Regions from separate parts of the Homo sapiens genome. Here region 2 is linked to region 1. The links come from fine-mapping of genetic effects on gene expression. Tissue or cell type: whole blood. Region 1 holds a variant in brackets; the other region holds the start of a gene. All regions are shown on one strand. Distances are from middle to middle.

Evidence for each region. PIP is the estimated chance that this variant, and not a neighbour inherited with it, causes the effect.
Region 2: it holds the start of CDH1, and the variant in region 1 is fine-mapped to the expression of CDH1 in whole blood (INTERVAL, PIP above 0.99).

The regions. Positions count from the first base shown.
Region 1 is chr16:68,773,685-68,781,550 of GRCh38, reverse strand. The region is part of intron 2 of CDH1 (cadherin 1); the gene reads right to left. Among named protein-coding and RNA genes, the nearest start is that of CDH1, 40 kb to the right of the region's middle. RefSeq lists cis regulatory regions at 454, 1,138, 7,171 and enhancers at 382-526, 1,066-1,210, 1,212-1,813, 1,814-2,417, 7,099-7,243. The variant A/G (reference allele first, on the strand shown) is at 4,147.
Region 2 is chr16:68,732,705-68,740,570 of GRCh38, reverse strand. CDH1 (cadherin 1) reads right to left here and starts at 3,279. Exons shown (of 16, transcript NM_004360.5): 1 at 3,108-3,279; 2 at 2,160-2,274. The coding sequence starts at 3,155. It also overlaps a transcript of CDH3 not described here. RefSeq lists a silencer at 3,164-3,233, a cis regulatory region at 4,186 and enhancers at 4,114-4,258, 7,306-7,866.

The DNA of each region.
Region 1 (7,866 bases):
CCTGGGCAACATGGCAAGACCCCATCTCTAAAAAAAGAAAAAATTAGCCAGGTGTAGTGGCATGCTCCTGTAGTCCCAATTACTGGGCAGGCTGAGGTGGAGTTAATTGCTTGAGCCCAGGAGGTCAAGGCTGCAACTAGCCGTGATCACACCATTGCACACCAGCCTGGATGACAGAGTGAGACCCTAACTCTAAAAAGGAAGGAAAAAGTAAAAGACATACTGAGGGGTTAAAATGAGTGCTGCGGGTGTGTGGAGGAGGGTGGAGAATGAAGCGGAGGCAACTGAGGCCACAATGCCTAATTGTTTCCAATACCCCCACCCTCAACTCAAACCCTCTGACCTGCAGATAAATAATGTCAGGCCTCCTGTGTGAGTGCTTTGAGTGCTGCGAATTACAAAATACAAAGCACAGCTGAGGAGTGGGGACAGGGTGGTCAAAAGGTGAGAGGAGAACATGGAGACAGAACGGCTTGTCAGCCGACACTTTTTTCCCCACAGACTCAATTCATCTCTGGACTCCTGGACCATTGCAGTAGCTCCTTAATCTTCCCAATTCTGGCCCAGGTTGCTACGGCGTCTTCTCTACACAGTAGCCGCATTGAGCTTGCTACAACCTCGGTCAGGCCATGACAAGCCTCTGCTCTATGCAGAGCCCTCCAGAGACTCACTTTTCCCAGAATAAAAGCCCAGCTCTCTACAGTGAGGCCTCAGCTACTTCTGACTTTGTCACCAACTACCCTCATGTCACTTGCTCTGCTCAGCCAACACCCTGGAGGTAACTGTGGGCATGAAATCACGAGAATGAGGTGCAGTACTAGCCAGCTTTGAAGACGCATGAAGTTATGGGAGCGCCACTCCTGATTCATCAGCACTGTTCTCCTGGGGTTGACTCCAAGGCCCTTTAGCCAAAAACATACAATAAGGTAGTAAACGCTGTAGAGAAAACAATAGAACAGGTGCTGGGCATGGTGGCCGAAGCCCGTAATCCCAAGCACTTTGGGAGGTCGAGATGGGTAGATCACTTGAAATCAGCCTGGCCAACATGGCGAAACCCTATCTCTACTAAAAATACAAAAATTAGCCAGGTGTGGTGGTGCACACCTGTAATCCCAGCTACTTGGGAGGCTGAGGCAGGAGAGAATCACTTGAACCCAGGAGGTACAGGTTGCAGTGAGCCAAAATCATGCCACTGCACTCCAACCTGGGTGACAAAGGGAGACTCTGTCTCAAAATAAATAAACAAAAAATAATAAAATAAAATAAACAGGGAGGAAGGATAAGGAGGGAGTGCTGGAGGCAGTGGTGTGCCATGTCAAAGGCAATGAAGGTGACTTAGAGCAAAGGCAGTTTTAGCTGAGACCTAAGACTTGCTGGAAGGGAGGGAAGGAGGGAGGAAGGGAGCCACACGGTCCCCTTTGGAAGGACATTTCAGGCAGAGGGAAAAGCAAACACAACTTGGTTGGAAGCCAATCCAGGGTGGTGGCTGAGTAGAGCGAGTGACACAAGGGTAGTCAGTGACAAAGTCAGACGTAGCTGGAGCCTCATTGTAGAGAGCCGGGCTTTTATTCTGGGAGAAGTAAGGAGTGTCTTGGAGTTATCTGCAGATGAGAGGGTTTCAGCTGGGGATGGGGGGATTGGAAACAGCCAGACACTGTGGCCTCAGTTGCCTCCCTTTCATTCTCCAGCCTCCCTCCAACACCCCCAGCACTCATCTGTTGCCAGGCTGGAGTGCAGTGGTGTGATCTTGGCTCACTGTCACCTCCACCTCCCAGGTTCACGCAATTCTTCTCAGCCTCCCGAGTAGCTGGGACTACAGGCATGTGCCACCATGCCCAATTAATTTTTGTATTTTTAGTAGAGACGAGGTTTCATCATGTTGGCCAGGATGGTCTCGATCTCTTGACTTTGTGATCCTCCTGCCTGCTCGGCCTCCCAAAGTGCTGGGATTACAGGTGTGAGCCATCGTGCCCGGCCAACCCCTCAGTTACTGACCCTATCAGAAGCACCATGCAGAATTGCAGTTAATCTTCACAACAGCCTAGAAGGTAGGTACCGTGTTACTCCCATTTCACAGGTGAATAAAGCAATACTCACAGTGGTAAGGGATTTGCCCAAGGCCACGTAGCTATAACAGCACACAGCAGAGCTGGGAATTGAACTCAGGCCTGCCGGACCCCAAAGCCCATCACCTTAACTTCCACCTAGCCCTGCCTCCCTGGAGGATGTGCCTCTTTGCCCCTCTGTGCAGGGAGTAAAGAGGCAGAGAGAGGCAAAGTCACCAAAGGAGGGTGGCAGCTTACAGATGGGAGCAGTTTTCCCAGGACAAGCCACTGGGGCATCTCAGTCAAGCCCGCACTGCAGGTGGAAGGCTAAAAGTGCTGATGAGGCAGGCGGTGTTGATGTCTGACCAGGCCCATTTAGAGCAGGCCTTCAGGGATTTCAGCAGCACAGGAACTGGCTCTGAGCACTGTAAATAAGTTGACTCAACACCTTGGCAGGTGATAGGGCTTTTTGGCCCTGACAAAACCTGAAAGGCCACCTGGCTGTTCCCAAAGGCCTTAATTTGCTTAAATAATGGCAAAACCTCTGGTGTGAATTCCCAGAGAACTTCCTGCCTTCTGACATGAGAGGGCACACACCAAGGGAGCCAGGAAGAGAAAAACCTCTCTCCCCCTCAATCAATTCCATAGGAAAACTGCTTATTAACTAAATCAGGAGGCAGAGGCTTGCCGTTCATACCAGCGTTAAATACTCTTTCCCTTCTCATTGTGACTGCACCGTTTCTGCTGACAGGGCAGGAGTTCAGACCAGTCAGGCTACTGCTTTCTCTTTTAAACACCCTTTTAAGCCATTAGCTTAGGCTCATCTGGAAAACCGGCCTGCCTGCCTGCCTTCTGATTACACACACAATATATTCAGCTTATCTCAGGTGTCCATTTCCTTCAGCAGGTAGGGAGCTGTGGTTTCCCAGAAGCATTTCTGTTTCTGGGAAGGCTGCAAACCAAGGCTCTACACATAGGGCAGGACCACGTGGAATCACTGGGGCTCACAATTGTTTACTAAAAGCTCAGGACTGGAGCTCTACTTACTAATCTGAACAAGAGCTGTTTCACTAATGATGATTTGTTCCCTGTTGGCATTTCAAAAAATATTGAGATATCATTAACACAACACAAAATTCACCAATTTAAAGTGTACAATTGGTCGGGCACGGTGGCTCACACCTGTAATCCCAGCATTTTGGGAGGCCAAGGCAGGCGGATCACAAGGTCAGGAATTCGAGACCAGCCTGGCCAATATGGTGAAACCCCGTCTGTACTAAAAATACAAAAATTAGCTGGACATGGTGGCAGGTGCCTGTAGCCCCAACTACTTGGGAAGCTAAGGCAGGAGAATTGCTTGAACCCGGGAGGTGGAGGTTGCAGGGGACTGAGATTGCACCACTGCACTCCAGCCTGGGCAACAGAGCGAGATTCCGTCTCAAAAATAAATAAATAAATAAAGTGTCCAATTTCTGGCCAGGCATGGTGGCTCATGCCTGTAATCCTAGCACTTTGGAAGGCCAAGGCAGGTGGATCACCTGAGGTCAGGAGTTTGAGACCAGTCTGGCCAACATGGCAAAACCCCATCTCTACTAAAAATACAAAAGTTAGCTGGGCGTGGTGGTGTGCGCCTGTAGTCCCTGCTACTTGGGAGGCTGAGGCAGGAGAATCGCTTGAACCTGGGAGGCAAAGGTTGCAGTGAGCTGAAATTGTGCCACTGCACTCCAGCCTGGGCAACAGAGTGAGACCCCATCTCAAAAATAATGATAAAAATAAAAAATTTAAAAATACAAAAATTAGCCAGGTGTGGTGGTGCATGCCTATAGTCAAGCCACTCAGGAGGCTGAGATGGGAGGATGGCTTGAGCCTGGGAGGTCGAGGCTGCAATAAGCCGTGGTTGCACCACCACTGCACTCCAGCTTGGGTGACAGAATCAGACCCCCTTCTCAAAAAAAAAAAAAAAAAAAAAAAGGAAACATTACCTTTTCTAGAACACTACCACCCCACAAACACTGCTTTTGAAGGCAGTCTTGGCTAAAGCCTTTGGTGGCAGAGATAATATTAGCAGCTAATGCTCTAGAGCACACTGCATGCCAGGCTT[A/G]TATTAGTCATTTATTTTCATAATAATAGTATGAATTAGGTACTATTATTGTCTCCATTTGACAAATGAGAAAACTGAGGCATATGAGGGTTGAGTAACTTGCCCAAGGTCACATAACTTACAAGTTACTGGTGTGAACCTGGAATTCGAGCAAGCACAGGCCGTCTGGCCCCAGAGCCCGTGGCTCTTGACCACTATGCTTTCATGAAGGGTTTTCTGCCTATGAGGCTTGAGAAAGACTGAAGGAAGCACCATGCCAACACACCTGAACACACACTAAATGAACCTGGGGGGACTGTGGCTTTCTCTCTCTGAACCAGTTCATGATATGAGGCTTAGAGGCACCAATGTTGCATTTGGAACAGCAACAAACACAAGCTTGGGACTGCACGGTGGTTACAAGTAACAAGTCTGAAGTCAGCCACACCAAGATTGAGGTTTCAGCTCCACCACTCAGACATACTTGAGGTTAAGTCACTTACCCTCTCTAAGCCTTAGTTTCCTCTCTATAAGATGGGCCGAATGGCAATCTCTAAATAACAGGACTGTCGTGAGAACTACATGAGAAAGTATATAATGTAAAGTGACCAGCCTAATCTGACAAGCCTGTTGGATTTCATGCATGGGCTGTTTTGCTGAAAACTGTGCATAACTCAAAACATGCTCAGCTTTCCTTTAAAAGTAGATGTGATGCACTCCCATTCTTTAAAAGCTGCAATATAAAATGAAACTTTATGCCAGGTGCAGGAACTCATGCCTATAATCCCAGCACTTTGAAAAAGCCAAGGTAGGAGGATAGCTTGAGCCCAGGAACTCGAGACTAGCCTGGGCAATATAGTGAGACCCCTGTCTCTACAAAACATACTATTTAAAAAAAATTTTTAATGAGATTTTACTAAGTAAAATATTATAGTGCAGTTTCAAGTCTGAATGATTCAAATCCGCTGAATGTCAGGTACTGTCCATAGCTAATATTGGACTCCTGCTGTGCACCAGGCATGCCACTCAGCACTTTAATCCACTATTCATGTTCAGGAAACGTTGGTCATTATTAAAAATAGTAAAAGTATATGAACTATGCTTGTTACCTGCTACTACATTAAAAGAAATCTAAAATAGGCCTGGTGCGGTGGCTCACACCTGTAATCCCAACACTTTGGGAGGCCAAGGTGGGTGGATCACTTGAAGTCAGGAGTTTGAGACCAGCCTGGTCAAGATGGTAAAACCCCATCTCTACTAAAAATACAAAACTTAGTCAGGCATGGTGGTGCGTGCCTACAGTCCCAGCTAGCTACTTGGGAGGCTGAGGCACAAGAGTAGCCTGAACCTGGGGGTGGGAGGTAGAGGTTGCAGTAAGCCAAGATTGCACCACTGCACTCCAGTCTGGGTGATAAACTGAGACTCTGTCTCACCAAAAGAAAAAAAGAAATCTAAAATAGCCATATTTGAGGACTTTTGACAATCTTCCCTCCTAACTTTCCTCCTTTTGGGTGGATGGGGGAGACCTGTGGAAGACAGGGGAAATGTAAAGGGGGACATTTTGCTAAACATCTGAGTGACAGCTTTGGAAAACGACCACACCTAAGTTTACACTTTCTTGACCTTGATGTCTAATTTCAGGGTCTATCAAATCATAACCTTTTGTTTCTTTGGAGAGCAACATGCTGATACCATCAGCTTTATCTTAGACGCTTCAGATGTAGAAATGCCAGCTATGCTTTATTATAGGGGAAGGAAATGTCTTTTTAAATTACAAACTTGAGTCCCATGTGTGGCTAGTGTGTGCATGCATATAGCTTACATGAAACCTACATGCTTTTAAACACAAAAACAGAAATGTGTAACTGCTCCTAGAATCCAACCGAATCCAAAGTGGGAGAACAAAAAGGGGGCCTTAGGCAAACCAAAGGCAAGAACACCACCTTCTCTTCTCATGTTCCCTTCTGGGTACACAAGGATCTCGGGAGGTGATGTTTGAAATGACTTGCATGTGAGAGTTTGTAATAAACACAAGACATTCTTGGCATGGTTGGGAATATTTGCCATCAGAGTTGGATGTTAGATGACATTATACGTTTTCTTAGTTGTGATAATGGCATTGTGGTTCAGGAGATGCAGACTAAAGTATTTAGGGGTGAAACATGCCTGCAGCGTACTTTCAAATGGCTCATAAAGTGCATGCTCGGACGCACACACTTAAGAGGCACACACAGAGAAGGCAAATATGACAATGTTAATTGTAAAATGAGGGTGTTCTTTTTTCTTTTTTTTTTTTTTTTGAGACAGGGCCTTGCCCTATCACCCAGGCTGGAGTGCAATGGTGCAATCATAGCTCATTGCACCCTGGACCTCCCAGGCTCAAGCATTCCTCCCACCTCAGCCTTCTGAGTAGCTGGGACCACAGGTGCGCACCACCATGCTTGGCTTCATTGTACTATTTCTCAACTTTTATGTATTTAAGTTTCCATAATTAGAAGTTTTGGGGATGGGGAGGGGCTTCTATAATGAGAACTAACCAAACTAACCACGTGGATTTATTTCAGATAAAATCAGGACTGAGATTCACCCAGTATGGACTGACAACAACCACACCAATGGTTGAAATATTGAAAAGTCCCATCAGTTGGTGAGTAGCCTTTGCTCTGAGCCTCCTGGTGTCCTCCCCAGTGCCCACCCTCCAGCTGCTGCCCAGGGCCCCAGCACTGCTTGAGCACTAAACACCAGGCATCCGCTTTCATTGCAAAGGGTCCAGGCTGTACTGGTCATCAAACTTTACTTATTTTATTTATGACAGGGTATTGCTCTGTCACCCAGGATGGAGTGCACCACGTTGAATGCAAAGGGTCCAGGCTGTACTGGTCATCATCAAACTTATTTATTTATTTGAGACAGGGTCTTGCTGTGTCGCCCAGGCTGGAATGCAGTGGTGCAATCTTGGCTCACTGCAAGCTCTGCCTCCCGGGTTCAAGCAATTATCCTATCTTGGCCTCCTGAGCAGCTGGGATTAAAGGCACCCACCGCCACGCCCAGCTAATTTTTGTATTATTAGTAGAGATGGGGTTTCACCATGTGGGCCAGGCTCAAACTCCTGACCTCAAGTAATCTGCCCGACTCGGCCTCCCAAAGTGCTAGGATTACAGGCATGAGCGACCGCACCCAGCCATCAACAAACATTTTAAAACTGTGCTTCTGGCCATTCACGGTGGCTCATGCCTGTAATTCCAGCACTTTAGGAGGCTGAAGCAGGAGGATTGCTTGAGGCCAGGAATCAAGACCAGCCTGGGCAACATAGCAAGACCCTGTCTCTACAAAAAATTTAAAATTAGCCAGATGTGGTGGCGTGTGCCTGTACTGCCAGCTACTTGGGAGGCTGAGGTGGGAAGATCGCTTGAGGCTGGGAAGTTGAGCTGCAGTGAGCTATGACTGCACCACTGCACTCTAGCCTAGGTGACAGAACGTGGCCCTGTCTTAAAAATAAATAAATAAAACATTATTCTTGCATATTCTTAACTACTGGCCATACTCCACCAATCTCTCGTCTTGGCCATCTTTGTCCACATAACTTGTTTCTCATGGATATGAACAGGAAGAGCCCTGTGGCACACAGGTTAAGTGCTCAAGCTGAGTTTAAATCTTGGCTGTGCCACCTCCCATCTGTGGGACCCTGGACTAGTCACTTTACCTCTCAGAGCCTCAGTTTACTTTACTGCAAATTGGAGA
Region 2 (7,866 bases), 41 kb after region 1:
CCAGACGCATGCTCAGATACAAGCTTGTTTCTAGCCCCTGCCTTGCTCTCCAAGACTGGATCAAGTTTGCCTTCCCCGAGAAGCCACTCCTCAATGCCCACTGACATCAAAATATCCAATCCCCAGCACTCTGGGAGGCCAAGGCGGGTGAATCACTTGAGCCCAGGAGTTAGAGATAACTTCTGATCCAATAGAAAGCTCTAGAGCACACAGAGCAAATATACTTCATCAGTCGAGCTGTAGTTTCTCTGTAAAAAACTTCGAATGACTTCCAAAGTTCAAAAAAAAAATGTAAAGACAACAGCGTGATTGCTAAAGATTCATGTGGTCAAAGACTGGAAGAATGACACAGTGGAGGTGTTCCCTCAGGGGAATTGTGGGTGATTTCTCTTAAAAAAAAAATGCCTCTTATTGTGATACCCAATCAAGTAAAATCATGAGAGAGGAGAAAGTGGTTTGATATAAAGGAAGCACTTGGGATTCAGTGAAACCAGAAGAGAAACTAGCCCCTTCCCTTGCTCCCTGGACAACAGTCAAGTGGAACAAAGCAAACTCTAGATTGTCACAACGATAAGGCCTAGAAGTACATTGGGTGTATGCATTTTCATCCTGAGTCAGAACTACCATGCTTTTTTTAAAAAAAGATCATTATTCCTGGCCAGGCGTGCTGGCTCATGCCTGTAATCCCAGCACTTTGGGAGATTGAGGCAGGTGGGTCACCTGAGGTCAGGAGATCCAGACCAGCCTGGCCAACATGGTGAAACCCCTTCTCTGCTAAAACTACAAAAAATTAGCTGGGCATGGTGGTGGCACCTGTAATCCCAGCTACTCAGGAGGCTGAGGCAGGAGAATCACTTGAACCTGGGAGCCAGAGGTGGCAGTGAGCCGAGATCACGCCATTACACTCCAGCCTGGGCAACAAGAGTAAAACTCCATCTCAAAAAAAAAAAAAAAAAAAAAAATCATTATTCCTTGGGGGAAACAGTACCTGTATCAAGATGTTTTGGTCCAGGCACAGTCTCTCAGGCCTGCAATCCCAGCACTTTGAGAGGCTGAGACAGAAGGATCCTTTGAGCCCAAGAGTTCAACACCAGCATGGGCAACATGGAGAGACTCCTGTCTCTAAAAAAAAATTTATTTTTTATTTATTTTTTGAGACGGAGTCTTGCTCTGTCACCCAGGTTGGAGTGCGGTGGCACTATCTCAGCTCACTGCAACCTCTGCCTCCTGGGTTTAAGCAATTCTCCTGCCTCAGCCTCCTGAGTAGCTAGGATTACAGGCACACGCCACCATGCCCGGCTAATTTTTATATTTTTATTTAGTAGAGATGGGGTTTCACCATGTTGGCCAGGCTGGTCTCGAACTCCTGACCTTGTGATCCGCCCACCTCGGCCTCCCAAAGTGCTGGGATTACAGGCGTTAGCCACTGCGCCCAGCCTAAAAAAAAGTTAAAATTATCCAGGTGTGGTGGCACATGCCCATGATAACCAGCTACTAGGGAGGCTGAGATGGGAAGGATCACTTGAGCCCAGAGGATGGAGGCTGCAGTAAGCTATGATTGTGCCACTGCACTCCAGCTTGGGCAACAGAGCAAGACCCTGTCTTTAAAAAAAAAAAAAAAAAAAAAAAAAAAAGCTTTTATATCTGTAAACAAAAGCCACAGCCCAGTAACCAAGAGAGGGCTGCTCTTCAGTCATCCCAGAGATGGTGCTTAATGGGGCCTGGGAGTCAGATCCCAGTTCAGATATCTGCTCTGCTGACCCTGAGCAAGTGGACGTCACTCTCTTAGCCTCGGTTTGCTCAACTGTAAAACGGGAATACTCCTGCCAGGCCTTCCCACCCACCAGGTTTTTGCAGTCTGAAATGAGAGACTGTCTCTACAGTGCTGAGGGCAATAAGAGAAATACGAAGGCTTCTAGTAAGTGCCCTCAACCTCCTCTTCTTTATAACATAGTCAACAACCAGGCAGGGTTACCCCCTCCACCACAGTGTTCAGTCGTAAACGTTTGGATCCCCAAATCTGCGTAAATTCCAAGGGGTGTCGTTTGAGCCAAGGAGGGAGCTTGCCCATTGCAACCCAGGGGTGTGGGAGTGCAATTTCTCGGCCCCTTTCCAACCCCTCCCTACTCCGCCCAGGGACACCGGCAGCGCGCCCTCACCTCTGCCCAGGACGCGGCCTCTCTCCAGGTGGCGCCGGGGCACCGTGAACGTGTAGCTCTCGGCGTCAAAGCCAGGGTGGCAGGGCTCCGGCTCCTGGCAGAGCCAAGAGGAGACCTGGGGTGGGGGAAAGGTAGATGGAACCGGGTGACTCGGAGGGTTCCCTCCTGCTCACCGAAACCAACAGCGCCGCCCCTCCCTCGCTCCCGGCGTCGGGATTGGGGGAGGACCCCAGCCCGCAGCCCCGGGACGGGCGGGCAGCGACGTCACCCTCCCCCACCCCGAAACCTACGGCCGCCGAGCCCCCAGGAACTCCCGGGAGGGGGCCGCCGAGTCACCCCCTCAAGACCTAGCCCACCGTTCCCTTTCAGTCTCCTTTCTCATTTTATTGGAGATGTCTTTATTCTCCAGTACCCCACTTTCCTTAGACCGGGAATGCACCACTCCTCAGAGCGAGGGGCGCTCCCACCTCCTCCGACCTCACTTTCTTATCCCCGGGACCCTCACTCCTATTTACGACCTTTCTTGGCATGGCAGGTGCCTTTATTTCTACGGATGCCCCTCTCCTTCCCTCGAAGATCGTCCCCACGACTCCTGGCTCCCCCTCGACTTGCACCAGGGCACCCCTTCTCCACACCCCACCCCCTACACCCCGCTTCACGCCCCCACCGCCCGCGCGAGCCCACCCCGCGGACTCCGCGGCCAGACGCCCCCGCCTCGGTCTGCGCTGGAGGGGGCAGGAAAGCCGCGCTCGCCCCTCACCACCCACCCCCCACTCCCATCACTGGGGGGTCCGGAGCGCGCGAGGCTTCCAGGCCGCTCCGCTCCTCAGGACCCGAACTTTCTTGGAAGAAGGGAAGCGGTGACGACGGGAGAGGAAGGGGCGCAGGGCTGGGGCGCGGAGCTTGCGGCCCGAATGCGTCCCTCGCAAGTCAGGGGATCCGGGGTACCTGCAGCAGCAGCAGCAGCGCCGAGAGGCTGCGGCTCCAAGGGCCCATGGCTGGCCGGGGACGCCGAGCGAGGGCAGGCGCCGGGTGCGGTCGGGTCGGGCCGGGCTGGAGCGGGCTGGAGTCTGAACTGACTTCCGCAAGCTCACAGGTGCTTTGCAGTTCCGACGCCACTGAGAGGGGGTGCGTGGCTGCAGCCAGGTGAGCCCCGGAGGCACCGCCCCCCGTACCGCTGATTGGCTGAGGGTTCACCTGCCGGCCACAGCCAATCAGCAGCGCGGACCCCTCCCCAGGGCGGAGCTGACGGCCCGCCCACCCGGCCTCGCATAGACGCGGTGACCCTCTAGCCTGGAGTTGCTAGGGTCTAGGTGGGTTATGGGACCTGCACGGTTCTGATTCCACTGGGTTCGAATCCCAGCCCCGCCGGTGGCTCACTAAGACCTGGGATCAGAAAGGGCTTTTACACTTGGCTGAGTTCTTTTGTTTTTTGGGATTTTTTGTTTGTTCGTTTTGGAGATGGGGTCTCACTCTTTCACCCAAGCTGGAGTGCAGTGGTGCGATCACAGCTCACTGCAGCCTCGAACTCCTGGGCTCAAGCGGTCCTCTGGCCCCAGCCTCTCTAGTAGCTGGGAGTACAGGTGCACACCACCACGCCAGGCTAATTTTTTTTTCTTTTGCCTTTTTGTAGAGAGACAAGTCGGGGCGGACAGGGGCAGTGGGGGCGCTGTGTCTCCCTGTATTGCCCAGCCTGGTCTCGAACTCCTGGGCTGAAGCGATCCTCCTGCCTTGGCCTCCCAAAGTGCTAGGATTTCAGGTGTGAGCCATGAGCCACTGAGCTAGCAGCCTAATTTTTTGTTTGTTTGTTTTGTTTGTATTTTTTGAGACGGAGTCTCGCTCTGTCTTGCCCAGGCTGGAGTGCAGTGGCACGATCTCGGCTCACTGCAACCTCCGCCTGCCGGGTTCAAGAGACTCTCCTGTCTCAGCCTATTGAGTAGCTGGGACTACAGGCGTGTGCCACCACACCGGCTAATTTTGTATTTTTAGTACAGACGGGGTTTCACCATGTTGGCCAGGCTGGTCTGGAACTCCTGACCTCAGGTGATCCACCCTCTTCAGCCTCCTGAAGTGTTGGATTACAGGCGTGAGCCACTGCACTCTGCCTCGAGCGGCCTAATTTTTTAAAAAATTTTTCTAGAGAGGGGATCTCACTATGTTGCCGAGGCTGATCTCAAATTTCTGAACTCAGGCGATCCTCCTGCCTCAGCCCCTTTACTGAGTTCTCATTTTTTAATCTAGTCTTTTTTAACTGTAGAGCTTCATGGGTTAGTGAGTCAGCAAATTGATTCCCTAGGTCAGGACCACCTCCCAAAGCCTCAGTTTCTCCACCCTCCTAATGGGAATAATGATCAGAAATGTCTCCCTATGCTGTTGTGGGACTCCCATACAATTAAAATGACAAATGTTTCTTGAGCCATAAATGCTCTGTACAGAAGTGAGGGGTAAAAATAGTAACAATAGGGCCAGGCATGGTGGCTCACGCCTGTAATCCCAGCACTTTGGGAGGCCGAGGCGGGCAGATCACGAGGTCAGGAGATTGAGACCATCCTGGCTAACGCAGTGAAACCCCGTCTCTACTAAAAATACAAAAAATTAGCCAGGCGTGGTGGTGGGCGCCTGTAGTCCCAGCTACTCGGGAGGCTGAGGCAGGAGAATGGCATGAACCTGGGAGGTGGAGCTTGCAGTGAGCCGAGATCGCGCCACTGTACTCCAGCCTGGGCGACAGAGCAAGACTCTGTCTCAAAAAAAAAAAAAAAAAAAAAATAGTAACAATAGGTGCTGGACATTGAAGATTACTGTGCCAGTCTCTGTGCTAAGCATTTGACACTGACCAGCTCTTTTTTTTTTGAGACGGAGTCCTGCTCTGTCGCCCAGGCTGGAGTGCAATGGTGTGTTCTTGGCTCACTGCAACCTTCGCCTCTTGGGTTCAAGCGGTTCTCCTCTATCAGCCTCCTGAGTAGCTGGGATTACAGGCATGCGCCACCACGACTGGCTAATTTTTGTATTTTTAGTAGAGACAGGGTTTCATCATGTTGGCCAGGCTGGTCTTGAACTCCTGTCCTCAGATGATCCACCTGCCTCAGCCTCCCAAAGTGCTGGGATTACAGGCATGAGCCACCGTGCCCAGCCACTGACCAGCTCATTTAAGCTCATTTCAAAACAACCCAAGAGCTGTATTATTATTCCCATATGATAGATGGGCAACTGAAGCTTAGAGAGATTGAGGCCAATGAGAGGTGGCGCAGGACTGGAACCAACCTCTCTGATTCCAGGGCCTTTCTTCTAACAATCAGCTTCATCTCATGTGGTCCCAGTCTTCCAGCTGGAGCTGCAGTTTTCAGTCTGTTTTTTGATGTTGACCTGGAAGAGACCTTTAGAGTTCACCCAAACCTATGATTTGCAAATAACTTGTTCAATGTCACATAGGCAGGTCAATGTCAAAGCCAAAGACCAAAACCCAGGATCTTCTGACCCCCAGAGTGGGGCTTTTAATGCCACAGCCACACCATGGCCACCATCACCTTCTCCAGAGAATTCTGTCCCCAGTGAAATAATTTTAGGATCAAAAATAGAATAGATAGGGGCCAAAGGTCTCAGGTCCTGGGCCAGTGGCCCTCCAGCACCCGCCGTCCTCCATCAAAAGACAAAAACAGAATAGACAGGCAAATGTTAGGTTAGACAACTTCCCTGTCTGACTCCCTGTGGCCAGCCACGTCTGGGTGGCTTGTCTACCCCGACAAGGGCACCTCCTTTCCCTTTATCCTTCAAGCATGGTTAGAACTACACAGCATTAAGTGGAGTCAGCCACTCACTAGCCCTGTGACCTTGGGGAAGTCAGTGTTCTCCTTTGTATAAGTGAATTGGCATGAGCTAATACAAAAACAATCGCTAAGCAGAGTTCTTGGCTCATCATAGCAACTGCTCAATAAATATTTGGAGTAGGGGTTACTCTTTCAAAAGGCCCAGCCCCTATTTCGCTTCCTCCTGGGGAAAGCCATGTTTGGAATATTTCACCCAGAGCTAAAGGTGCCTCTGAGTCCATCAAGTAATTTCTCAAATGCAGACGATTTCTGGGCAGCCCAGCACCGCCCCCCCCAACAACCTGTCCCCTCAATTTTAATGAGTTTCCAATCAGGTCTTTTGGATGTCGTATTTTGGCTCCCTCTGCTCTTAACCCACCAGGAGGCTCAGAGGGAGAAGGCTCCGGTATTTCCTTTCCCACTAGGATCGTGCCTTGAACAAGATAATGGAAATACAGAAAGAGGCGTTTCCCCCATGGGGCTGTACTGTCTGCTTATTTTTTTCCTCTCAGTTATGTAAAAATACATATTTTATACCATCGCTGGGCCCTGGGAGCCTTTAGGGCTTTACTTTCTTCTACCCAGCAAGCCTTGGCCTCGTAACTCTGCAGCGACTCTCATCGACTCTTCCATTACACTCTGATAATTCAATAAAAAGGATTTTAGAAAACAATTAGGGGCAGCAAAGTCAGGTCAGGCCTGATGCATTCTTCAGACTTCTCGGCAAGTCCTTCTCCAAGCTCCAAAGACAGTAGATCAGGTGTCCAGGGTGAGGCGGGAACACAGAGGGGCTCCTTGTGGAAGACAGGTGCTGTGTGACTTTCGCAACACACTGAATTGCTTCTCTGTTTCCTATTTATTTATTTAGTGACAAGGTCTTGCTCTGTTGCCCCGGCTGGAGTGCAATGGCGCGATCTCGGCTCACTGCACTCTCTGCCTCCCAGGTTCAAGAGATTCTTGTGCCTCAGCCTCCTGAGTAGCTGTGATTACAGACACACGTCACCATGTCTGGCTAATTTTTGTATTTTAGTAGAGACGGGATTTCGCCATGTTGGCCAGGCTGGTCTCAAACTCCTGACCTCAAGTGATCCACCTACCTCAGCCTCCCAAAGTGCTGGGATTACAGGTGTGAGCCACTGTGCCTGCCCTCTGTTTTCTCTTGTATCAAACAGGGATACCTAAGCAGGCCTGGTGGCTCACAACTGTAATCGCAGCACTTTGGGAGGCTAGTTGGGAGGTGAGAAGATTACTTGAGCCCAGGAGTTTGAGACCAGTCTGGGCAACATGGTGAAACCCCATCTCCCCAACAAATATTATTTTGAATTAGCTGGACATGGCAGTGCATGCCTGTAGTCCCAGCTACTCTGGAGGCTGAGGTAGGAGGATCATTTGAGCACTGGAGCCACTTCACTCCAGCCTGGATTCACTTCTGGCTCTGCCATTAGTTGAGAAGCATAAGTCATTTTATCTCCACCATCTTGGTTTCCTCATCTGTAAAATGGGAATGTTGATAGCACTTAATTCATAAGGTTCTTGTAAACACTCTGCAAAGGTGAGTGATTAGCCCTCTTGGCCCAATACATTCCCTTTCCAGTTCTAGGAAAAATTGTGAGCTGCCTGGAGCCTCCCCTCCCCCAGGCTCTCCTTCCCCCACCCCCGCCACTAAAGCTCCTCAGGTTATCTCTTGCATCTACTGGAGAAAATTCTTTCATGCCGGCCAGCTCATCATTTCGAACCTCCCAGGGCCATTTGCACTTTAAAGAGGGCTCTAGAGAAAGACTTTTCTTCTTTCAAAGGAGTTGTAAATGCTGTCCAGGGCTTTTAACCTGGTGTCTGTGGATGGGCTCTGGTGGGGTCCCTGAATCCCCTGAGACTGTACACAAACCTGTCCGTGCAGGTGATAA